4 separate regions of the Homo sapiens genome follow, and all the other regions are reported to be linked to region 1. Evidence: microRNA targets listed by miRTarBase, many of them from high-throughput screens and not tested one by one. Region 1 holds a microRNA gene; each other region holds the end of a gene's coding sequence.
What was found. Region 1 holds the annotated microRNA hsa-let-7c-5p (UGAGGUAGUAGGUUGUAUGGUU, at 1,861-1,882, opposite strand). A microRNA usually pairs through its seed, bases 2 to 8, with sites in the 3' UTR of a target mRNA and lowers its output. Matches are read on the target gene's strand: a 7mer-m8 pairs with bases 2 to 8, a 7mer-A1 pairs with bases 2 to 7 and ends in A, and an 8mer does both.

Region 1 (4,600 bases):
TATTTATAAAGATACAATTGTTTACCCATTTAGTTGTCCCTTTCTTTCATCCGTGGGTTGAACTGCCATCATTAGACACAATGGTGTTCCTATTTGCTATGAGTCACTTTCCTTTTCATCTCTTCATGTCTTTTTGTTTGTTTGTTTTAGGTCTATGTCTACTGCCTCTTATTCATTGCTTCTTGATTAGTCCTTGCAAATATTTTTCTTTCACAGAGAGAAAGAGTCTTTACTACTGTAGACCAATCAAATTATTTTGCTTGAAGTGACTGGTATTCACTTTCTAAGGCTCACATGTTCTACGTGTTGGGGGTAGCCATTCCTTCTTCACTACATTGTTAGCAAGTTCTAGGTATTAAGATATTTTGGATGCCTGAGCATTCTAGAAAGGTCAGCACCACATAGCCAGTATCTTGAGGTCCTTAATATATATTTGCATCTAAACGTCTCTTTAATGAATTCCATGTTTCATATTTGGAGTCTTAAATTAAAGTTCTAACATCAACAACTACTTAATCCTGTGTCTGAAAGATGATCTATGTAAGATAGCCTCACTACACAAATTACACCACTAACAGCTGCTAAAGTTGACAGCAAACTAAGGTTCCAAAGAGTCCCATTTGCTTTGTAACACAAAGAATATTATAAAGTGCCTTTCCTTTAAACAAAAATGTGTTCACATTCTCAAATTATACTTTATATACATATTTATTATTAATTTATTGACATGTTTCTGGTTTAGTTGCTTCTGGTTTATTCAACAGATATAGCTGTACAAAAATAAAGGGCAGGAGACGAGGGAAATACACAAAAGACACAAATCTAATTTTTAAAAATCATATTGTTAAATGAGACTTAAAATAGAATATTTAGTTGAAATTGATGCTAAAAGAAAAACGATTCATCTGGAAAGAAAGGTATTTAAATTCAACAGAAATATGAATTATCTAAGTGTAGGATCATAAACTGTCATGAACTAATTAGTAAAAATGAATTTACTCTATTATTTTTATTCTAGATAAAAAGTACTTCTAAATTTTAACTTATCTGTTTAGAATGAATGAACACATTCAACACAGTCAAAAATCGACACATGTATTACTGATGCGGAGCAGTCCAGGAATTAAATTTAAACAGTTTTAGGAGCAATAAATAAAACTCAGATGTTTGACCACTGCCATAACTCATTCAAATATTCAATAGAAACTCATCACAGAGTGAGGTCTTACACTCCATTCACTAATCCAATAAATAGTTAGTGCTCATTATGAGTAAGGCATTGGAGGGGATACAGTGAAAAATAAAACATGGACTTTGCCCTCAAGGGGCTTACAGTCTAGTGCGGAAAAAATCAGCAAGCACATAAATAGCCATAACATAAGGTAGAAAGTGATGTGTCATAAGGAAAACGCAAATAATGTGCTATGGGAGCTATTAACTCTAGCAGACATTTTTTATTATAGTGTCTAAGCAGCCAATATAAATAGACCAATGATCCATTTGAAAATTAAGGTCTGAATTTTGTTAATCTATAGATGATAAAAAGCTTTAATATTAATGCAATTTAAGTCACTACCTACAATTTTCTTAAAATGTTTGAACATGGAGTGACAACCCATTAGAAATACCATTTTGACATTGTTCATAAGCAGATACAAATGGAATAATCTAATAGGGCTGAAATGATCATTTTAATGTAATAAAGGCCCAAATCAATGATCCAAGATACTCATGACACATTACCTTCTTGCACACAAATTGGCTCAATCAGGTTAAAGTGATGAAGAATTCCTCGACGGCTCAAGTGTGCTCCAAGGAAAGCTAGAAGGTTGTACAGTTAACTCCCAGGGTGTAACTCTAAACCATACAACCTACTACCTCAACCCGGATGCACACAGCTTCCAATGTTGCTTCAAACTCCTTATCATATCTTCAGTCAGCTCCTCCAAATATGGCAGCCATACACCTAAGGGCTTGGCAAGGATATAGATATAATATTCTAACATTTTACCAGTAAACTTTGCTGCTAACTGTTTCTCATAGGACTAACCTAAACACTTGGGTTTCCAGCATAGGTCACGTAAAATGTCTTCTGACCATCTAACCTGCCATAGTTCTAGTCGCAATTAATAGTAAAAGTCAATTGCATTCAGCCTCATTTTTTCAGGAGAAATAGGCTCAATAAAAACATATAAATCCAATGGTAGTCTTTAATTTTCTTACTGAAGTTGAAGAGGTACACTAAGCACTACAGTATGCACTGAAGTTTCTGAACAGAATCTATTCAGATCCTGGTCCAAACCCTGCTATAAAGGTTCAACTTTCTTATGCAATTTACTGTACATGGAATCGAACTTGAATGGGTGTGATATAAACGCTTCCAAGTTGTTGAGAATTGAAGCCTGCCTTGTAAGACAGACAATGATTAAAATAAACATTAAAAACAAAGGAAAATATAATGACTTCAAAAGTATATAATCAACTGGAGTTTAACAGGATTTTACTGAACTATTGTTGAACGGCACTGTGTATAGCATTTTGTCAGATTACCACACTGACACAGACCCATAGAAGCGAGCTTGTGCGGTCCACTTCACCACAAGATCGGATCTACGGGTTTATGCCAATGGGCAACATCTTGCATGGGCCCCCTATTAATATAGAATTTGTTGTAAATATCTGATGCAATTAAGAGTCAAAAATAATATTGATCCTTTAGTATAAATGTTTTAAATGCTGAGTTCTAAGGATGCATATTCTCCATTAAAGGCCTTCATAAATATTCAAAACTAAATACAAATTTATATGCATGAGAATTTAAAAAGTAGTTTATTGAAAAATTTTTCACGAACTGCTTTTGTTTCAATAGTAAATATTTTGGAATTAAACTATTCTAATTGAGTTTTAAAAGAAAAAAGAATCCATACATGCATGTATGAATTATATAATTGTGAGGCATGAATGTAGTATTACGAGCCTATAATTAAAACCAAATTAACTATTAAGTTAATTGTGTATGAGTTAGACCGTGCTTATTTTAATTTTTATAAAACTAGTTTAGTTACTGGTTTCAAGGAATTGGTAACATTATAACTTTCTCATAAAACAGTAAGATCTTGTTCACTAGCTAGAGAATACAGGAAGTTATTATCAGCCTTAAATATATACATCTGTGTCTATAGTCGGAATGGTGCTAAAATTTACAATATTTGGATGAGTTAATATAAAACTAAACTAAATGGCACGATAATGGCATGATTACTAATACTCCACACTAACATTTATACTCCAGATGTATTACATGACATAGGATATCTTCTTTCCTAAATAAAATATATTTAAACTTATTGTTCAAAAAAGATACACTTAAAATGCATGGCTACATACAACTCTCATCTGGTCAACAGGTTGGGCAAAAATAAAATATTACTAAAAAATGTTTTAAACCACCAGACAACAAGCAAACACACAAACGAGTAAACATAAAGCCAGCCACATACACGTTTTTTTAAGATTGTAAACTCAACTGCAACAAAATGATAAGTTGTACAATCATTAATCATTTCACATCTATAATCACTTAGCATTTCCTAATTATATCTTTATTGTGTAAAATAATACTACATACTAATTGCTTAGTGATTTTGCATATTTTGAAATAAATACGTTTTATAGCCTTTATATAGATCATGTGTTCTACATAATTTTAAACCATTATTTATTCTTAAATTGTCCTCATAATTATTAAAAACTATAGTAAATAATCAACAATCATACATTCAGTTGTAGTAAAAATATTTCAACATATATTTATAAATGCAAATGTGAAATAAGAGGCAGCATTGGGTTTAGTTTTACCATAACTATAAGAAAGCATGTTTTGGTTTCATTGTCTTATCAGGTCATGTAAAAAAGATGAAAAAGCATGACCTTATTCCCCTCCTCCTGATTTCACTTCCTTTTATATGGTACAACAAATAAGAAAATATAATTTTTTTCTTTTCCTATAAAGCTTTCTAGTAAACCGTATTGCACCTATCTTAAGCGTATGGATACACAGACATATATTCAATGGGACACAAACTGCCCAATTGACCACAAGAAATTTTTCACAAAGGTAGGTCATAGCACACATTTTCAAATGAAAACCATCAATAAAATTTCAACAGTTACACTCATAAAGAATATGAAATTAATTCTTATAACAAAACACAGTCAAAAGAATGTTGTTTTTCTTTAAAAACAGTAAATCTTATTTGCTCTTTGTTTTTTATTTTTACCTGAAATGGTTTTCTCCTATGATCACTTTCTTCACTTTTCATATCCATTTTAAGTTTTTCCCTAAAACAACCACAAAAGGAGAAATATCAGACAACTGCTGTCTAGGAGGAGCATCTGAGTGGATCGTGGGAATGAGGGTAGACGATCGAGAAGAAAACACGATATCAAAATGGGCAAAACCTTTTAAAGTATTTTTTTTTTAAAGCCTTGGAAGACTCACAGGGCCCCACCCAGGCTACTCATATGACATATAAAGTGGTTTCATAGTTTGCATTTATGCGTTCATTTTGGTTCGTGTTGTTTTCACAGTAACAGTTTT
Region 2 (4,300 bases), not on the chromosome of region 1:
GGTTGAGCGCTTTGAGACAGATTCTGGGGAATTTCTCCAGATTAACGACGAGACCACCAAACCTTGCAAAGGACTCCAAAAGTCTACAAAGGCAGCCAGAGAGCATGAATAAGTTCCAAGATGCCAAACTTTTGTCTTGGGACAAGAAAACATCAAAAAGGAGAGGGAGGGAAAGGCTTGCATGTTTCAATGTAGTGCAAGGAGGTGGGATTCTCCTTTTCCATGTAGCTTTCAGAGTCGTATTTTTATGGCATAAAAATTCTCACTCGGCTGGGTGCAGTGGCTCACGCCTGTAATCCCAGCACTTTGGGAGGCCGAGGCAGGCGGATCACGAGGTCAGGAGATGGAGACCATCCTGGCTAACGTGGTGAAACAATGTTTCTACTAAAAATACAAAAAAAGTTAGCCGGGTGTGGTGGCGGGCGCCTGTAGTCCCAGCTACTCAGGAGGCTGAGGCAGGAGAATGGCATGAACCCGGGAGGCGGAGCTTGCAGTGAGCCAAGATCGCACCACTGCACTCCAGCCTGAGCGACAGAGCGAGACTCCGCCTCAAAAAAAAAAAAAAAAAAAAAAAAAAAAATCCTCACTCAAAGTGAGTGCTTTTGGTGGTTGGGGATCAGAGAGAGGGCAGAAAGAGAAATTAGAGAAAACATGCACAACTTTTCTCTCCTTCCACTCGCAAAAAGGCTACCTGTTAACCAAACATTATGGGGAAGAAAGCAAAAAACAAACACACCAAACCTCCCCTCCAACCTTTCTCCGTGTCCTTCAAACCAAATTCACAAATACATCTAGTGGCTGACCTAATGTCTCCACGCTGCTAGCTACACTCCTACCTTCTCCTCATAATACCTGAGTTTGCAATGCAACACATTCACTTTACCCTGTTTAAAAAAAGCCCACGTCATAAAAGGACTGGTGCAGAAGACATTAAAGACGGTCCACAGGTCAGGCTCCGGCTCGGAACACACAGCCACTTTGCTCTGAGATTCTGCAGGGCTCTCGGCAATGAATGGGCTCTTTGTTCTGTGGAATCTGCTGCAAACATTTGTAAAACTGGATTTGTACAATGGCAACTTGCAGAACCTTTCCCCTACTCCACAAATTAACAACTTGCTCTGTTCAATACTACGTTGTTGGAGAGACATGTTCTTGCCTCATCAGAGAGCAATTTCTTTTGACACCCAACACAACGGGTAAAATGTTTAATTTGAAAAGCAATTTCAAAAATAATAATTGGACAGATAGAGGCCTCAGCAAAGAACGATGCTGTACACAGGAGCTGTCTTAGAGAAGGCATCTGTGATATGTGTCTCCTTCCCGATCTGGAGGAAAGCAGCTCAGAGTCTGACCTGTGGCCAAAGAATGTGATCTAGTTGGTTAAATAAAATTCAGGGGAACAAGTATCGTGAACTTAGAAATAAACAGATACACACGAACACACAAGAATCTTCCCACTGACGTGAAAAACATGCTAGCTGGAGCTTTTCCTGAGGAACATGTCTCTTCCTTCTCAGAGCAACTGGGGAAACGGCATTGAGGAGTAATGTTCCGAGTTTTAGATCCATCAAGGGCCAAAATCATCACTCTGCTGGTACCCGTAACATTTCACCAGAAAGAAACAATTACAATCAGACATGGACTACCCAGTATGCACACGACGTGGTGCCCTCCTGGGTAGCTTTACTAGGTTGAGTTGAGGAGACAGCAAACAGCCTTTGACTAAATAGGCAGAAGAAGGTGCCGTGGGCCCTTCCAACCTACCCAGGCATGCAGCCAACTAAGTGGTCTGCTTGCCACACTGGCTGTGAAAGATACCTGGGTGTAGGCAGGACAAGCACCTGAAAGAGTTCAAAGACAGACCTGGTGTAGCGCTGGCCAAAGTCAAGAGGGTAAGGAACACGTCCTGGGATAAGGTGGGGCAGGTAGTGAGAGGTCAAGGAGTCCAGGCCATGTCTGCAGAGGTAGCAGCCGGGCCATTAGGAACCTGAGGTAGTTTAAAGCCCCCCTTCCCTTCCAGGTGCTTCTGGCTCCAGCCCTCCAGGCCTTGGCTGGCCAGTCCACTGCTGAAGTAAGGGGCAGCTGAGCCACTCTGGGCCTTGGGCTTTGTGTCCTGGGTCCCTGAGGAAAACTGGTCTCACTCTGGAGAGAAAAGGAGAACTTGGAGAAGAACTTAGGGGCAACATTTCTGGTCAGCAGACAGGTGAATGGTCCTTCTCATTGTTTAAAAAAGCCTGAAGTTTTCGGATTTAGACCTGAGGGTGCGGTAGGAAGGGGAGGGGAGAGGAACAGATTTCAAAAGGGGAGTGTCTATTCTTTTTGCAGTCTGGCCTTGCCCTACTACCCTTTGAAGAAAACAAGGTGAAAGGAGAATAAATCAGTAGTGGGCACCAGGCTTCAGAACATGGCATTCTGCTCAGCTGGTTTTTCAAAGGGCCAATAGGAAGTCAAATGTGTAAGGGAGTGGGAAGGAGGAAGGTGGGCCTCAGGAGATCCAGGTAAGGAAACTAGGTAGCTGGGGGCCCCGAGGGAGCTGGGAGGCGAGTCCTGTGGATCAAGTGATTGCCAGGACTTTGCCTAGATGGAAAGTTCGCAGTGGTAGACAATGATGGTGGTGCAGGGGTAAGGGGGGCAGCAAGGTGTGAGAACAGAAATTCTTCTGCCCTTAGGACTTGTTGGGTGGAAGGACACCTGCCTTAAATATGGTCACTGTGCCCTACTCTCTTAATTTTCACGCTTTCCAAGGAAAGGACGTGGCTCAATCCTCACCTCCTACCCTGTTGCCGTCTCACCAACCTTGCTTAGTGAATCTCCTAACAACACTTTGCCCCCTTACAGTGTGCCGTTTTATCTGGCAATTCTGTGGCTAAAAAAGGCAATTTGCTCTCTGACAGACAAATGTATGAGTCTGCTGAGAAAATGTGGAAAAAGTAGGGATGGCCACACCCCCCATTTCCATTGAGGTAGTCATCTTTGTCAACATTATGGAAATAGTCATCTTAGCCCCATCCCACCCTCTCCCTCAAAATACAAAAGAACTATTTCTAAACAATGACAACACTGTAACATTAAACATCTTCACATTCTGTAAACTGTAAGAAAATGCATTGGCTGCATTCACACAAAAGCATGTGCATCATGTTGAAGGCCATACATTCAACTCTGTCGTGAAATAAATATATAGAAAAATGAGGTTAAAAAAACAGACAAACAAACAAAAACTCTTCTTGCTATGGAGGCAACGGGAAATGCTGCTCCACAGCCTCCATCTTGGTCTCTCTGGCTTTTCCCTCCAGAGCCTGTCCTGCCCACCCAAGACGCTGTGGTTGGCCTGAGGAGGGCGCCTGGAACAGGTCATTCCTTGCCCACACTGGTCTTGCAGGAATGCAGCACCACCTTAAAGAGGAGGGGCAGCTGCTCCAGGGGCACATTCACCATCTTTCCTGGGAACAAGGGGGGAGAAGAAGAGTTAGCAGTGGTCACTCTAGTGGACAGGCAAGTCAGCCTCCTTGGGCTGGTGGAGGCAGAGTATCACCTTGCTGAGTGACTGGGGCAAGAGAAGTGCCAGGAGTATCACAAAGGTTGGACACACTGGGCTAACATCCTAACATCCAGACCCCTTTGGGTGCCCAGGGAGCCTAGTAATGGTGCCAACTCATCATCATTCTACTACTCAGGGAATACTTAACTCTGTTCTAGGTGGTTAAATGCATTACCTCGTTGAATTCTCACACTATTTCTGTGTACTACTTTTTACCCTCATTTTATAGATAAGGAAGCTGAAACTGACAGGTAGTCCAAAAAACTTCTGTCCTGTTTTCTTCACCCCCTCAACCCCCGGTAGATTTTCTAAGTAATATTCTATAAAATATTGCACTTCAGAATGGTTTAATAGGTTAATAAAAGTACTAGGGGAAAAAGAAGCAGGGGTAAAGAGGCAAATACATTTGAGAAACTCAGGGTTAAAAGAGCTTTACAGATTTCTTGATTGAAGGACTTCTCAGAGCATTCAGTGTGCTAATATAATTTATAAATACCTAAGGCTGTGTTTCTTCTGGCAAACAGTACCTCTGAGTGACCTGGGGAGCCGTTCGAAAACACTGATTATCTCCAGGCTCTACCCCATTCCAATTAAACCAGAATTCTCCAGGTGCAACTCAAACATTGATTTTTTTTTTTTTTTTAAGTTTTCCAGGTGATTGGAAGTGCCGCCAAGGCTGAGGACCCAGTTCTATGGAGGAGAGTGGCATGTAATTGTTGACTTCCTTTTATTTCACAGAGTGCCTGCTTAATATCTCAT
Region 3 (4,300 bases), not on the chromosome of region 1:
CAGGGGAGGCGGTGGTCTGAGCCCCCTCCCCTTTGCTCTGTCTCATTTCCAAGAAGGTGGTGGCGCCGAAAAGGCGGGAGAGATAAGCGGGAACAGAGCGACAGGGAACAGGGTTGTGTCACCCTCAGCCGGCAGAGGTGTGTTCAGGGGGTGGGGCAGACGGGGTCACAGACACACACTGCTCACCAGCCATCTGGGGAGCCCTTTCCCCATCACGATGTCATTCTGCTGATCGGGAAAAAAGTTCCCCCTTTTGCTTCAGCGGTTAAGCAGTTTGATGAGCAGAATCAAGGTTCCGCTCTCCTCCACTCACTTCCCCATCGCCTACATGCACACGGGGCATGGCCAGCAGCCGCCAGGCTCCTCAGGAGTGTCTGGCATGTTGGGGGAAGCATCCATTGCTTTAAGCTCTCACCACACGTGCATAGGTTCTGGCAGGGAACACTAGATAGCCCTGAGCAGGGCAAGCATCAGCGTGTGCCCGATCCGCACGTGGTGTTTTCCCAGTGTCAGACCCTTGAGATGTGGCTCTGGTAACTGGAAAATGTTTGAGCAAACTTTTGGCCATAAATGACAGCAGTAATATGGCCCAGCACAGTGGCTTATGCCTGTAATCCCAGCAATTTGGGAGGCCAAGGCAGGAGGGTCGCTTGAGCCCAGAAGTTCAAGACTAGCCTGGGCAACATAGGGAGACCCCATCTCTACAAAAAAAATTTTAAACAAATTTAGCCAGGCGTGGTGGCACACATCTGTAGTCCCAGCTACTTGGGAGGCTGAGGCAGATCGCTTAAGCCCAGGAGGCTGAGGTTGCAGTGAGCTATGATTGTGTGACTGCACTCCAGCCTGGGTGACAGAGTGAGACCCTGTCTATAAAACATAAAATAGCAGTAATAGTAATAGCTAACATCTACAGTCCGATGAGTACATTTTATACGATGGCACATATGTTGACTCACTTCTGCACCAACTCAGCCTGTGCTGCCTGTTCTCCCAGCAGCACTTACTGCCCCACCTTCAGCTCTGCTCTGTATTCAGGGGCTGCCTTCTCAGTCACCCAACCCCAGAGGCCTGGGCTCCCCAGACCCTGCTCCCTTTTAGGAACCTCCTCCCCGTCGGACACTCATTTCCTTCACTTTACAGAAAAGGCACTGAAGGCAGAGATCAGGGCATGGCCCAAGCTTGCTCAGCCAGAGGCAGAGCTGAGATTCTAGCCTGGACAGCCTGACTCCAGGGCTTTTGCTCTTACCCACCAGGTTTCCCCATCTCCCCTAAAACACAGCAGGGCACAGCGGTATGCTAGACCTGGCTCAACATAGCAGACCATGCACATCTCGAAACTCTGCATTCAGTGGCATCATGCTGGTATCCTGAAATCAGCAGCAGTGGGAGTCTTGACACCCAGAAATTGGCAAGCACTACAAGCCAGGGATGTTTTTGGGGAGCCGGTTCCTTAGGACACCACTAGCTGGGGGATGAACCCAGGCTGCCTGACTGCAGTGCCTTCATTCCTTTCCACTACCAGGCCCAGCTCAGGGTGCACACGGCCCAGGGGATCAACAAACCTTGGTTCCAGATGGGCCCTTGCACATTTTGCCTCTTTGCCTTTTTCATTCCAGGGCCATCCAGTGTCAGCCAAGTCACCAGAGCCCGGGGATGTTGTTGTCGAGGAATGAACACTTCTTCCTGGTTGCTGAACCACTTTCAAGGCCCACTCAAGCACAGAAATGCACAGGCCCTGCCATCTGCCTCCTCATCCACACCACGTGGGAGGCTCCTCTTGTCACAGCCTGGGTAACAAAGCGAGACCCCATCTATACAAAAACTTGGCTGTGGTGCTACGCACCTGTAGTTGGTCAAGGCTGCAGTGAGCCGTGATTGTGTGCCACTGCACCCCAGCCTGGGTGAGAGTGAAACCCTGTCTCTAAAAACTAAATGAATAAAGATGGCCTCAGATGGGAATAGCTAGGAAAAGGAGACAGGGCTCTTGTGGGAAGAGACGAGTGCAGGGAGTGGGGGAATTGGGGAGGAAAGGCAGATGGAGCTCCACAAGGTGAGCAGAGTGGCAAGCCCAGCTCCTGGGAGTTGAAGGGTGCTGCAGGCTGAAGCAGGGCCCAGTGAATAGGGGTGTGCTCACCTGGGGAGACACAGGAGCAGCCCCCAGCCCTACCAGGCATCGCTGCATCTCAGCTGAGGACAGGTTTCATCATCAGCAGGGGCAGGGGTCACAGCACAGGCGCCAGAGCCTTGGTGCAAGGCGACAGGCTGACGGGCCAAGCTTGGCGCCCTGGCCATCTGCCCTCCCTGGGGGTGAGGGGCTCAAGGCCAGGCCCCACTATTGGCTGGTGCAGAGGGGAGGGCTTTGGCCCAGCAGGGCAGGGCCAGGGGCTGGTTGTGTTTTCAGGAACTGTTGACACGGAGACCCCTGCCTCTCCTCCAACATGGGACATGTCCTTGACCCCAGCTCCCCACACCCTCATGCACGTCTAGGGCCTCAAAGGGGACATTCATTCCTTAATTCCTCCATCCATCCAACCAACCACTGGGTAATGGGTGGTGCAGCTGGCAGGGACCATGCACAGCCATGTGCACAACAGCAGAACCATGCCTCGTGGAGCTCTGCAGACCCCAGGCCCCCTCCCCACTCCTGAGATGGACAAACACACAAGCAGACAAGGCGGGGGCCACATGGGGCCAGTTTATTGCAGTTAAATACCTCTCTCTCTATTTTTTTTTTGTCAATTTTTCCATAAAGAAAATTAAAACACACACACACACCCCCAAAGGGGAGCAGGGACCCAGAAACAAGAGGTGGGGTGGGACGTGGCCTCCCTGCATAGGTCCAGGCCCCGGGTGGCCCCCCAAAGGCTCCCCTCCTTCCCATCAGCACCCTGTCTCAGTACCTCCAGAGAGCAGGAGGCAGCGGGACGTGGCAGGGCCTCTGTCCCCTCCCTCTTGCCTCCAGGTGAGACCACTAGAAGTGCCGGGGCTTAGTGAGGGCCGGGAGAAGGGCGACAGACAGACGGATGGGCAGGGAGGATACCGTTTCCAAGTGGAGGAGGGCGGTGGGCACTGTATCCACAGAAATGCATTATTTCTCCCCGTTTTTTGTTAAAAATCTACTATAAAAAAACGCAGCTGGGGGAGGGGCATGTGTCCCTCTCTGTGCTAAGGGCTGGGGAAGGGGGCAGCAGAGGCCGGCGTGGGCGGCGGCGGCTGCGTGGTGGTGGCGGGCGTCACTGCCGGGTGCCCTCGCCCACCATCTCCAGGTTGTGCTGCTGCAGCTGGGCTCGAAGCAGGGCGTTCTCATTCTTCAGCTCCTCGATCTGGCGGACACGACGGAGGTCAAGGGAGCTGAGGGCCAGCGCCTTGCATCTGGGGCTCCTGGGCCCTGACCCGCTCCAGGCCCCGCACCCACCTGCTGCCTCAGGAGCTCGTTGTCCATCTGCAGCCGCTCGGCCTCTTTGAAGGTCTCCTGCATGCGCTGGTTGGTCTGGCGCAACTCCCGGATGTAATCGCAGGCCTTGGACAGGATCCCTCCTTTACTCTGGGGGGCGAGGGGACCAGGAGCCTTAGGGCAGGCACCGCCCACCGGCCTCCACCCCAGGGATGACTCCCGAGCCCCATGGCTGTTGGACTTTCTGCATGCAAGGGTCGGGGGCCGGGACCACCGCAGACACTGAGGGTCCGGGGTGCTCACCGCTCCCGTCTTGCTGTTGTCTGCGTTACAGTCTGGAATGATTTTCGAAAGCTGGACGATCCAGTTGTTGATCTTGTCCCTCCGCCTCCGCTCCACTGCGGAAAACAGAGTCACAGCCACGGCTTCGCTGACGGATCATGCCTGAGCGGCCGTCCTCACAGGGCAGAGGCTCAGCCCAAGGACACCCAGGAACAGTGCAGGCCCCACCGAGACCACAGCCCTGGGAAGTGAGGGGCCGCACCCTGAGCCCAGCCGGCCCCCACCCCAGCTTCTCAAGAGGAACAAAGAAACGTGGGCCCTCCAGTGCCACACATGCTTTTAGGACGGGCATCAAAGGCCAGGCACTTGGAGATCATTTTGCAGGCCTGCCCCACCATACTTGTACAAATTTTAATCGACAGTTAAAAATAAGGAAATTTCTCATGGTAATTGGCATCACTGGCTTCTTTTGAGAAATGGAGCTCTGGTCACAGTGGGCACATACTGGAAGGCAGGGATGGACAGAGCCACTCTTCGCAGGACCAGTGCCCCTTTTTGGCTCCTGCGGCCCCTGCACTGCATTCTCCAGTCTCCCCAGAGACTCTGGCACCGTGATTTTGTTTT
Region 4 (4,300 bases), not on the chromosome of region 1:
CGAGGTCAGGAGATCGATACCATCCTAGCCAACATGGTGAAACCTCGTCTCTACTAAAAATACAAAAATTAGCTGGGTGTGGTGGCGCATGCCTGTAATCCCAGCTACTCAGGAGGCTGAGGCAGAATTGCTTGAACCAGGGAGTTGGAGTTTTCAGTGAGCCAAGATTGCACCACTGCATTCCAGCCAGGCAACAGAGCGAGACTCCATCTCAAAAAACAAAACAAAACAAAAAAACAAACCAAGACTAAATGGAGCATTTAGTGAATCCTTTAAAGAGACCTCATGGGGATCTTAGCTGTCCCAGGCTGCCCACACAATGAGGCCTATGACTGGGGGCTGCTGCCACCATTAAGGGTCCCAGAGCTGTCCAGGGCCTGTCTCCACCTTCAAGAGTCATCCTGCCCTGCTTCACAATGCTCCCCTCTCCTTCCTTCCTTGCCCCTGGTACAGGTGGTCAGCCAGGGTCCCCAGCACGTCTGACTGGGTCACTAGCCAGGGTGTGACGCAGGTGGGAGAGCCCACCGAGGCATAAGTGGGAGCCTCTACCCTAACCCCTGCTGGGTCCATGGAGCTATCTATTCATAGCAGCAGGACCACCTTTTTTTTTTCGAGATGGAGTTTCACTCTTGTTGCCCAGGCTGGAGTGCAATGGCGCCATCTCGGCTCACTGCAACCTCCGCCTCCCGGGTTCAAGTGATTCTTCTGTCTCAGCCTCCCGAGTAGCTGGGATTACAGGCATGTGCCACCACGCCCAGCTTATTTCATATTTTTAGTAGATACGGGGTTTCTCCATGTTGGTCAGGCTGGTCTCAAACTCCCGACCTCAGGTGATCTACCCGCCTCGGCCTCCCAAAGTGCTGGGATTACAGGCGTAAGCCACTGTGCCCAGCCTCAGGTGTTCTTTTAGCACTGTACCTTTACACTTGGTTCCCTCTGCTTGGTGTATTTTCTCTACTTTCCCTTGTCTTAAAAGATCCAGCTCATCAACCTCTTCCCTATGCTCCTAATGTTACCCTTACAAAGGATGCCTTGTGTTGGTATGGCAAGCCCTCAGCACATGGCAGCTGAATGAAAGGCTGACCCAGAGGAGGTCAGGTTTACTCACCTTGTCCCACACGACCAGTGACTGAGGATGACAGGGACACAGGCCTCAGGAGACCCTGGGAACTGTAGTGAGCAGTAGGTGGGGCTGGAGGACCCTTGGCTGATAGGAGAGTTCCCTGTGCCCCACATAAGCGATTTGGGGATAAATTCTTTCAATGAAGTAGGAAGGACATGGAGGTAGAAGGAAGGAAGCCTAGGCTACGGCAGTCACCTCCTTTATAGAGAACTCTTAAGCATCAGTCTCCTCTGGGGTAGGAGGGAGCCTGGCATTTTGCACTTGTTTGGGTTGTTGGGGAGGTTGGCTGGGAGGGGAAGTCCTCATGCTTTAGCACTGGAAAAGGCAGAAGGAGCTGAACTGGGGATTCAGTTCTGCAGTCACCGTCCAACCTGTAGCCTTCTGCTAGACCCCCACTGCCCATCTCCCTTGGGACCTACAGACACCCCACATCACAGGATTCAAGTTTGGGTTGTCCTGACCAAAATTTCCTTCCCAGCCCCCAGTAAGTACAACCTCCTGGCAGTTTAGGGTGAAAGGCAGCCCAATGACAACTGGCTTGGCTGGGCGCTACTAGGTTCTTTTCTCTTCAGCTCTCAACATAGGGAAAAAGGGAAATATGTGCCAGGGCCCAAGGGCCCAGAATGTTGCCCAAGACAATCTTCCTTGAGTTTTTGTGGGCGTGGTGTTATTTCTGCAGAGCTCAGAGGAAGTCAAATTCTTCACTTTCTGCTCAAAGCCACAGGCTCTCCAGAATTTTAACACAAGTAAGAAGAAAGAAACTCTCAACCATACAAGGGGTATATCAAGACATCATTAAAGTGGCTGGGTGCAGTGGGTCACGCCTGTAATCCCTGCACTTTGGGAGGCTGAAAGTGGGTCACGCCTGTAATCCCTGCATTTTGGGAGGCTGAAGCGGGTGGATCACCAAGTCAAGAGATCAAGACCATCCTGGCCAACATGGTGAAACCCCATCTCTACTAAAAATACAAAAATTAGCTGGGTGTGGTGGCACATGTCTGTAGTCACAGCCACCCGGGAGGCTGAGGCAGGAGAATCGCTTGAACCAGAGAGTTGGAGGTTGCAGAGCCAAGATCGCGCCACTGCACTCCAGCCTGGTGACAGGAGCGAGACTCGGTCACAAGAAAAAAAAAAAAAAACATCATTAAAGTAGCCATGGCATTTTGAGGCACCTCAAATAAAGAGAGTCCTGGGTGGATTTAAGCGAACAGTTTGTTATAATGAACCAGAAATACAAGATTCCACTGAAACTGAACAGTTGACAGAATATGGTTGAACTTAAACCTTCAAGGGAAACAAGGGCAAAACAAAGCTAATGAGTGGAAAAGTCCAAGATTAGTTTGGGATAAACATGAGGATATAATTGCATTTTAGCATGGCTATCTTCTGACCTCTTCCAGCAGTTCGTCTGCCATCATTCTCCCTTCTGACACACCTACCAAATCAAATGGCTTCTGATCCTCTATATTGCAGTATAAACCAACCCTATAGTACCCCTCTGGTCATGATACAAACCCAGAAGGAAAGTCTGTAAATCTCATACAAAGGTAGAAAGTGCAATTCAACCCAACACGCTGGTTATGGTATATGTGCTGTCAATGTACATGGTAGCAACTTGAATCAAACCAGAGCTGCTACCACATGTAAGCAACCTCTTATGCTGCCCTGTAGTGATGTCAATGTTCTCAGTTTACTAAATTATCAATGTGGAAGAACGCATTTTTGAGCTCCAGACCTTCTAAACATTTTAAACAGGCTATCGAAGAGGATGTAACAGAACCCTATTTCAGAAACCTAAGGATCAGGGAGGAAGGAACACTGACCGGTTTTTCTGGGATGTTTCTGTGGGGGCAACAGGGATGAACAAAAGAAATGTTAGCATGTCAGAGCATATGACAAGTGAGGGGAGACAGAGGTAGGAAGAGGGTGTTCTAGCCACAAGGCTAATGCATTTGTGTTCAAAGAGAAGTCTGGGCAAAGGAGGGGAAACCCCCCCTCCCCCCTAAAAAAACAAAAACAAAAAACCAAATCAAAGGACAAAAGGGTTTCATACAACACAGTATCAAAAAGTAAAAGGAACACACTAAATGCACAAGCTGGTGGCAAGTAAGTCCACAGCCTATTGTGATAGGTCCATCCAGCATCAATCAGATTTCTTCTCATCTGTTATCTCAAGGTTATTTACAGATGTGTTGACTAACAAGAGTCTCTCATGGGAGGATGGGCAGGCTTCAATCATTGGTTTCGGGATCTGTCTGCGCCATGTAGGCATCCAACTCAGCATCCAGGTGTCCTTTTGTTTTCGACATATATGCATCCAATTGGTTGTCCAGCTGCTCCTTGGTCAATACAGGGCGAGCAAGGGCACCTCTCCCTCGTCCACGGCCTCGGCCTCGGCCTCCAAAGCCCCCTCTTCCCCGACCTATCATACCCCGACCTGGCCCAAAGGGGAAAAAAAAAAAAAAAGAGACAGTTACAAGTAAGTTTAATAGGTGCTGTAGTAAATGCCCCTTAGAGCAGTGGGGCCTAGCTGAGAAAAGCTGAAGGGCAGGGCAAAGAGGAGAAATCTGGAAAAAAAGGAAACACAATGGGTAGAAAGCAACACATGGAAAGCACACATAATGAATCCTCTATCACATGATCATCTCTAAATGCTATTTTAACAAATTTTATTCTATCAATAAAGGAAAATAATTAACTGGCAACTATAATTTTAAAAAACCTTAATCAATCCTAAGATAAAATTACCTAACATTTGAGATTCACTAAGTTCATAATTAAAATACATGACAGATAACCCCATTTGGTAAGATAGGGAGGTGGTAACAAGAGCACAGAGCATCAGGGGTGTGAAGACAAGACAGTTTTCAAATTAAGTTTATTGGAGACCCTTCTGGAAAGTCATCTCACCTGTCCTTAAACTTATCAAGTCTAATGAGCTAGCTGACCTCATGTGTCAGGAGACTGAGTTTTTCTGACACAGGAACAATGTAGGGGAGATTTGAAAAAATATTTTGAGTTGTCCTAGCTATTTCTACCTTTAATTCTAGTTACCTTATGACAACTGACAATTGTGGTTATCTGAGAAGCAGTGTGAATTCAGTTAACAAAACAAACTCAGCTTTTTGAAAAGCTATTTTAGTCTCTCCCACCCTCGTGATGTCTCTCAGGATCCAA

Region 2: the mRNA of NR6A1 is a reported target of hsa-let-7c-5p. Seed matches in the 3' UTR shown: 8mer at 2,960-2,967, 8mer at 1,989-1,996 and 7mer-m8 at 1,962-1,968.
Region 3: miRTarBase lists USF2 as a target of hsa-let-7c-5p. The part of its 3' UTR that is shown has no 7-base or 8-base seed match.
Region 4: the mRNA of CHTOP is a reported target of hsa-let-7c-5p. Seed matches in the 3' UTR shown: 7mer-m8 at 3,036-3,042.

What each region holds. Positions count from the first base shown.
Region 1 is chr21:16,537,120-16,541,719 of GRCh38, reverse strand. It overlaps MIRLET7C (microRNA let-7c), which reads right to left and starts at 1,892; the gene lies at 1,809-1,892. All of the region lies in intron 6 of MIR99AHG (mir-99a-let-7c cluster host gene), which reads right to left. It overlaps MIR99A (microRNA 99a), which reads right to left and starts at 2,631; the gene lies at 2,551-2,631.
Region 2 is chr9:124,519,351-124,523,650 of GRCh38, forward strand. NR6A1 (nuclear receptor subfamily 6 group A member 1) reads right to left here. Exons shown (of 10, transcript NM_033334.4): 10 at 1-3,443. The coding sequence ends at 3,355. Among named protein-coding and RNA genes, the nearest start is that of NR5A1, 14 kb to the left of the region's middle.
Region 3 is chr19:35,278,190-35,282,489 of GRCh38, reverse strand. It overlaps USF2 (upstream transcription factor 2, c-fos interacting), which reads right to left. Exons shown (of 10, transcript NM_003367.4): 8 at 3,698-3,792; 9 at 3,416-3,544; 10 at 2,669-3,323. The coding sequence ends at 3,234. Among named protein-coding and RNA genes, the nearest start is that of HAMP, 2.2 kb to the left of the region's middle. RefSeq lists enhancers at 1-100, 1,487-1,536, 1,627-1,706, 2,146-2,290, 1,797-2,296 and 1 more and a cis regulatory region at 2,212-2,225.
Region 4 is chr1:153,644,324-153,648,623 of GRCh38, reverse strand. It overlaps CHTOP (chromatin target of PRMT1), which reads right to left. Exons shown (of 6, transcript NM_015607.4): 6 at 2,318-3,560. The coding sequence ends at 3,355. Among named protein-coding and RNA genes, the nearest start is that of SNAPIN, 12 kb to the left of the region's middle.